Homo sapiens: one gene and its partner. The protein of the gene in region 2 purifies or fractionates together with the protein of the main gene of each other region. This does not show direct contact. Each region holds a gene or a part of one and is shown on either strand. Other genes may lie near its edges. The genes, in order: ENAH and RAPH1.

What was found.
Region 1: the proteins of RAPH1 (region 2) and ENAH purify together in Homo sapiens (affinity purification with western blotting, with the first as the bait; one study listed by BioGRID). This does not show direct contact.

Annotation. Positions count from the first base shown.
Region 1 is NC_000001.11:225,513,610-225,517,435, forward strand, and holds part of ENAH (protein enabled homolog), read right to left. Parts: coding exon of another isoform or gene 3,698-3,826; coding exon 3,587-3,697; intron 1,292-3,586; coding exon 987-1,291; intron 1-986. UniProt on the Homo sapiens protein: Ena/VASP proteins are actin-associated proteins involved in a range of processes dependent on cytoskeleton remodeling and cell polarity such as axon guidance and lamellipodial and filopodial dynamics in migrating cells.
Region 2 is NC_000002.12:203,434,240-203,438,065, forward strand, and holds part of RAPH1 (ras-associated and pleckstrin homology domains-containing protein 1), read right to left. Parts: 3' UTR 1-3,826. UniProt on the Homo sapiens protein: Mediator of localized membrane signals. Implicated in the regulation of lamellipodial dynamics. Negatively regulates cell adhesion.

The DNA of each region.
Region 1 (3,826 bases), on a different chromosome or scaffold from region 2:
ATGTCCTTGTTCTTATAAAATTCACACTGAGGTACTTAGGAAAATAGAAGCTTGTGTCTCTGAGTTACTCTCAAATCATTCAAACAAAAGTGCATGTGTAGGCCGGGTGCGATGGCTCACACCTGTAATCCCGGCACTGTGGGAGGCTGAGGCGGGTGGATCACCTGAGGTCAGGATTTCAAGACCAGTCTGGTCAACATCGCGAAACCCTATCTCTACTAAAAATACAAAAATTAGCTAAGCATGGTGGTGGGTGCCTGTAATCCCAGCTACTCAGGAGGCTGAGGCAAAATCGCTTGAACCTGGGAGGTGGAGGTTGCAGTGAGCTGAGATCGCGCCATGGCACTCCAGTCTGGATAACAAGAGTGAAACTCCGTCTCAAGAGAAAAAACAAAAAAAGTGCATGTGTAAAGAAGGAAACATATCCAAAGAAGGAATAAAAAAGCAAATACTGGTAAAATGTTAATGGGTGAATGTAGGTGATGAATTTATAGAAATTATTTATACTATTCTTACAACTTCACTATAAAAATTTAAATTATGTCAATTTTTAATTTTTATTTATTTTATTTTTTGAGACAAAGTCTTACTCTGTCACCCAGGCTAGAGCGCAGTGGCATGATCTCGGCTCACTGCAACCTCCACCTCCCGGGTTCAAGCGATTCTTCTGCCTCAGCCTCCCGAGCAGCTGGGATTATAGGCATGTGTCACACATCTGGCTAAGTTTTGTATTTTTAGTGAGATAGGGTTTTAACATGTTGGCCAGCCTGGTCTCGAACTCCTGACCTCAGGTGATCCGCCCACCCCAGCCTCCCAAAGTGCAGGGATTATACAGGTATGAGCCATTGCGCCAGGGTAAATTATTTCAATTTTTTAAATCAATGAAGTTCATAACATTTCATAAAATTAGAATACAATAAATTCAACATTTTAGATATTTAGGAAGAATAAGACATATTAAAAAAATTTTTCAGAAAGGTATTTACCCGTGACACTTTCCTAAGTTTTGCTCCGGCAATTGCAGCTGCAAGTCCAGTTAAAGGGCGATTGTCTTCTGACATGGATGCCAAAAAGAATCCAGATGCAGGGAGGGGTGGGGCAGGAGGTGGTGGAGGAGGAGGGGGTACTTGATTAGGGAGAGGAGGGGGAGGAGGGGGCGGTGGAGGCCCGGTGGATGGGAGTGGAGGAGGTGGAGGGGGCCCTGGGGGAGGAGGGAGGGCTACTGAAGCCTGTGCAGGCCCTGGTGGGAGTGGTGGAGGAGGTGGAGGTGCAAGTGGTCCCAAGACAATGCCTGAGAGAGAGAAATGTTAAGTAAGACCATCAACAATAGAGCTGAGTGATATTATTTTATGTGGGAAGGTACGCAGAATGCCATGCTAAATTAAACTGACTCATGTATTTACTTAATGAGTCCAATTTATCATAGTTGTAAAAGTCTAGATCAGTTTTTGAAAGATACTGAAATGTAAGGTCCAAGTATATATAACTACTTACTTTAGGTTAGAGCTTTAGTAATAGAACTATGCAACAGATCATCTAATTAAGACTTTTTTTTTTCATGGGGATTTGGTAAATAAGCAAAATAAATACTTATAAAATTTGGAAGAGAGGTAAGCGTCCCTGAAAAAACAAACTAGTATATAGGATGGCAGTTAGTACTACTTGAAATATCAGACCCAAAATAATCCACATTAACCTTAAGTGTTGAGACAGTAAATTCAGTAACAGTGAACACATACATTTAATTGTTTACAGTCAAAGTGGCTGTATTAAAAACATGAAGGAGGAGTAAGTCCCAGCTTCAGCATTTTAAAAAATACTTCACATTTAAATTCAATGGATAGCCAAGGCTGAGAATCACTGAAGTAAAGGAATTTACTAGTACAAAGTAAAACCTCAAAATAACGCTCGGAAATAATTAAATACCATAGGATTTGAAGTAGAGTTGTTTTTATCCCACAAAATGGGGGGCAAGAAGAGAAATGTTCAAATGTTATAAAATCACAAAGGGAGTGAACAAGAATTTATTTAATAACAGAATCCTGAAACAGTAGGTGCTCTTTTAGTTAAGGTTTAAGAGGGGTGTTTTCAGAACGAATAAAATGCTATTTTGCACACTGGGTGGTAATTGCTAACTTTTTCAGCTTGAGCAGTTACACAAGCAGAAAACATCAATTGTTAAAAGAAGCATCTAGAAATAGTCTGTCCCTTCTGTAGGGGTTGTTAAGAGTTCTGAGGGTACAGCAGGTCACTTTGTCAGGCTGACTGTGCCCATTTTGTACAGTATAACTGTCATGGTGAAACCAAACTGAACGTCTTAGAATTCTGACTAACCTTTTAAGCAAATTTGTAAGTCAACAACAACAAAATATATACATATACAGCAATAACAAGCCTTGCAATGTTTAAGTACAAATTTGTTTTCAGTTTTCTTTCTGTAGTCCTCCTTAAATCATATTTTAAAAACTAGGGTTGCCAAGCATCTTCTTATTTACTTACAGAACCAGGTCCTTTTCTACTTACAAATAATCCACTTAGAGATTACATCCTGCCTTCCCTGTTACCATAACAATAAGGTAGGGACGGGGAGAATAACTACAGAGGATGCTATTCTCTCTTGATTACCCCTTCAAGCCACTACTTATTGTAATTTTGGACCTTGGAACCCTTTAGGGCATATATGAACCCTGCCATCCTCTCTACTCCTCCTGCAAAGTCATAATGCTCCAAGGGTTAGGGTGACACCTATCCTGGAAGTCCAACATGGGGCATCTAATATAGGAAAGGCAAGAAGGAAACAGGGCCCAAGATCAGAACTGTTCCAAAGGAAACTCTGGGATGACGTATCTAATGACTACAGTTGGGCACTAAATATATCTCTCTAAGTCTCCCAGAAAAATGAAGGAAAACAATTTAGATCATGTATTTATTGTGTGGTAGATCAACGTGTCAAGCAAAGTTTTCCCAGTGAAAGACATGTATTAGCTGGGTGCGGTGCTCACACTTGTAATCCTAGCAACTTTGGGAGGCCGAAGGGGCAGATCACATGAGGTCAGGAGTTCAAGACCAGCCTGGCCAACATGACAAAACCCTGTCTCTACTAAAAATACAAAAATTAGCCAGGCGTGGTGGCATGTGCCTGTAACTCCTGCTACTCAGCTGGCTAAGGCAGGAGAATTGCTGGAACCCGGGAGGTGGAGGTTGCAGTGAGCTGAGATCGTGCCACTCTACTCCAGCCTGGGCAACACAGCAAGACTCTGTCTCAAAAAAACAAAAAAAAAAAAGAAAAAAATAAAGAAATGTATTATGAGGGGCTCTTAAATACTAGAAAACATCTTTAACTGCGATACTATAAAAGATATCAAAACCTAGTTCAATAAGGAAATTCCTCCAAATGCAATTAATCCAACAGGAAAAACATTTTTCTACTTTAATTTTTTTAATTAAAAAAAAAAAAAGCATGGCATTATGGCATATAAATGTTCAAGGATCAAAACCATCCTACCCATCCATTCAGGCAATTAAAGTCACTGCTATATAACATTTTCAAGTGATTAGCTGTTAGTAGCAATAATGAAAGCCTTACCCTGTTGGGATGGAGTCTCGGCCGGCTGAGAGGCTGCCTGCAAGCCTGGCTCAGAAGCAGAAGAGTCTCCCAGCACAGAGTTTAGAGGAGTCTCAACAGAGGCAGGGGCAGCTGCAGAGGGAGAAGGGAGAACACTAGGCTTGGATGAGGGAGTTGAGGCAATAGGGGTGCTTGGAGGAGGAGAAGCTTGAGATCCACAGTGTGAGAGTGATGCGAGGGAAGGCAGTGGAGGCGGCGGCG
Region 2 (3,826 bases):
TGAAGTTCCTTGTCTTCTTCATGCTTTAAAAAAGTATACTTCTACATTGTATCTACCTATGGCAAAGCTCCCACAGCCTACAAGTTGGTGTGAGCCTTGACTCTTGTTTTTTAAAGAACTGAGGGAGGGAGCAATCCCAGTTAAATATAATGTGCAATTCCCCTTTAACAGTAAACAATGTTTTTAAAACACTTAGCACAAGCTAATTTTATCTTAAATGTACATCTCTGTAAGAGTTCACTAGTGGCTGATAGTAAAATGAAGCAAAATTGTTTGAAACATTCCAGTTAATGCTTATTTTCTAGAAGGGGTTATTTTACAAGTAGCAAAAAAAAAAAAAAAAGTAGGAGGTGGGGAAATAATATGAAAAACGGCAGTTTTTGGTATTAGGTTACAATAAATTTAACGAATGGACAGTTTGCAAAATATAAGGGTTTCTCCCCCTTTAGTGCTGCAGACAAGTTTTACTGCCTAAGACGTTGAGGCTGCAACAATCATGAGCTTGGTATTAGTAGCCATCCATGATAAACATAATTAATTCTCAACTTAACCATCTATAAAATATGTAGTGTTCACCATCACCCTGACTCAATTCACTTCTCTAAATGTCTTTGGTAGAAAGCAGCCAGACCCCACGTGGGTAGTGATGTCTCTTGTGAGACACTTTTCATTTCTGCCAAAACTAGAAATACCACCTTCCTTTACTTTCATTAGCACCTCAAAGTTTGCTTGCTGGATTTCTTTAAAAATATTCTGCCAAAAGAGTTGAAGGCACTGGGGGTTTACAGCAAGTATTTTCTCTTTAAAACGGTTTATTACTTCAACAAGCAAAGAGCAAACCAACTGGAGAAATGTATGTTTTTTCTTTTTATTTATCAAGTTTTATTCTACAGCTAAATTTCAGATTTCTTTTACATATAGACCTTGCAAGGGCACGGTAAGAACTGAGCACTTGTTTTATTTGAGGGATAAAGGTGTAGAAATTTTCTCTTTGAATTTTATAAGGAAAGGCTGGGTACAGTGGCTCATGCCTGTAATCTCAGCATTTTGGGAGGCTGAGGCAGGAAGATCACTTGTGGCCAGGAGTTTGAGACCAGCCTGGGCAACACAGTGAGACCCCCATCTCTACCAAAAAAAAAAAAAAACCTTAAAAGATAATAAGTATCTAATTCTTTTATACTTGCATTTCTCTTTGGATCAAATCTCAACTTTGTGAGAGGTCATACATTTCTACAGGGTTAGGAGTACCCTGCATAATTTATACAAATGTAAAGTGTATATTAAAAAAAAAAAAGTGAAAGTTACCTGCAATCTAAAGGGTTTTCTTCCCCTAGAAACAGTCACCCTCTCGTCAAGTGTATGACCCAATTATACCTATTTTATGAAAAGCAAGGCATCACATTGATAACCATACAGGATCCTATGGGTTTAACTGGTCTAAACTTGAGTGGATTAAATCAGTTGTAATTAGTTAGCTCTGTAGGTATATGAAAAACTTTTGGTAATGTACAAAAATAGGAATGGGTTTTTTACCTGTTTAAAGTCACTTTGTGTTTATAACAAAATTACTTTTAGCTGAGGAACAAAGGTGACAAAGATTTCTGTTGGTGGCTGAGAGTCAAAGCAGGCCAATCCACACCATTACCTGAAATATTTTTCAGGCTAATTTATAACTTTATGGATTTCCTCGATACAAGTTTATTAGTTTATTCTCCATATACAAGTTTATTCTCCCAGAATAGCAGCAAATAAAACTTGAATTGGATGTACAGCTCCTAATAACCTTGATGTCAGAGTTGTCACTTGGTTGGAATTATTATGATCCCCCAATTTAAATTTTCTTGATAAACTCAGCGTTGTTTGTTTTCAGTGACAAGAAAACATACATGGAAAGGGGACCCAAGACAGTTCACCAAGATAGTTCACAGCCCTTTGCAGGATATGCCTTTGGTGGGTGGGAGCACCTAGATTTTAGAGGACTATAAAACGCCATGTTTACTTTGTTTGAAATTTTCTGATGAAAAGTCTTTTGTAACTTAACATTCCACATTTTCATTTAAAAAGTCCCAGAAATATAAACTATCCAATTTACAACTAAGGTGGGTATCTGTAAAAACCTTAAGAATAGTTACTCTTCCCAAGAGAATTACAGCGTCTAAGGGGGGGAAAGAAAGCATCTGAGCAGTAAAAGTCAAGCTGGTAAAATCCAATACAGAATATCTAATAAACCATAAGTTATTTTACTGAGAATAGATTCTGCTGCCCTACAGCATTGGTGCCAAAACTCTAAGCATAGAGTGATTCTACTTTGAAATTATCCATAGTAGAAATTAGGAGTGTCACTAATTAAGCAAGTCACTACCTCTAATAAGCACCTGTTTGCACTGCCCTCAGCAGCAGGATGAGTTAATCCATGCTGTTCACTTTTCAGTACAGCCAAGTCAACTGCACAGACTTGAAGCAGCCAAGCTGGGTGAGAGCTGCAGAGCAGAGGGCAGTGAAAGAAGGCACAGTACTAGTGTCGTGCGGCAGTAGATGCTTTCCATGAATACACCAGAGAAAAAGAGCTACAGAAATACAGTCTAGGAAAAGCTACATCCCAACAAAAATCCAAATTAAAGAAAACCCACTAGGGAGTAAAACAGAAGTATAAAGTATCACTTTAGTGGTTTTTTAAATTCAGTTCATACATGAGGTTAAAACATTTTTAATAGCCATTTCTGTCTGTGGAGGAATGTAAAGGGAAATGGCCTGTTGTCGGACAAGCCACTGGACTGGGGTTAAAATGAGTCTCCTCCTCTAGCCTTACTCTCTTCCTGGCATCATTAGTGTTCAAAAGGATGTCTGCTATTCCAGGAAAACAGACCAGAAGCATCTGTTCAGGATGGCTATCATCAGGATTGATACAAGCAAGAAATTCCAAGAAATCCTGCACTGAAAACATAAAGGCTGTTGTTTTAGGGCTCAAATCATGGGTGAAAAAAGGTTAGCGGGTACATTTTTTCCCCCTCAAGAAAAACTGAAGTGTTGTCTACCTTCTCATGAGAAAATCACCACCACAATAAAACTCAAAACCTCAGGGATGAATACTTTGATAACTGGATTCATATTCTTACTAACTCTAACCCACAAATATGGGTGCCCCTCAAACTATAAAACTGCAGGCAGAAGACTATGAGAAATTCATTCATGAATCACAGTAGCGCTTGGCAATCTACTCAAACATTACCCAAATTTCTGTGCATGCTTAAATTAACAATGCAGATGTGTTAAAGATCACTTCATAAATATCAAACACAAAACTTGGTGAACAATTTGAAAGACCTAAAAATTAATGGTATATATTCTTATTGCTCCATAACCACATGAACATAACCGAACAATATTCTGGAGATGTAGCAATGGAGAGGTGCTGTTCACTCTCTGTTTACGATGCGGTTTTCGTGGAGTGTGGGTTATGCAAGACCTTGAGTATACTGTACTAATTAAGCACTTTTGCTCATTCTAGAATTATTTACCATCTCTTCCCCCACTTTACTGGCATCACTTTTTCCTTGTGGGACAATGTCAACTGATTTCTGCAGTTTGCATTGGTAATCATTAACAATAGGCACAGACTTTCATTACAAGATGTGCTCCCCTTATAAGTGCTGGGATGGCCCATTTTTATTCTCTTGTTTAGGAGCTGCTCTGAGATTGTTTTATTCCTAATAGTCCAATTTATCATAAGTTGATGAGAGTACTTATTTCTCTCATGTACCAAGGAAAATTCACAGAAAAAAGCATATAGAAGTATAGTGTGTCGTTAGAGCACTGACTCCACGTT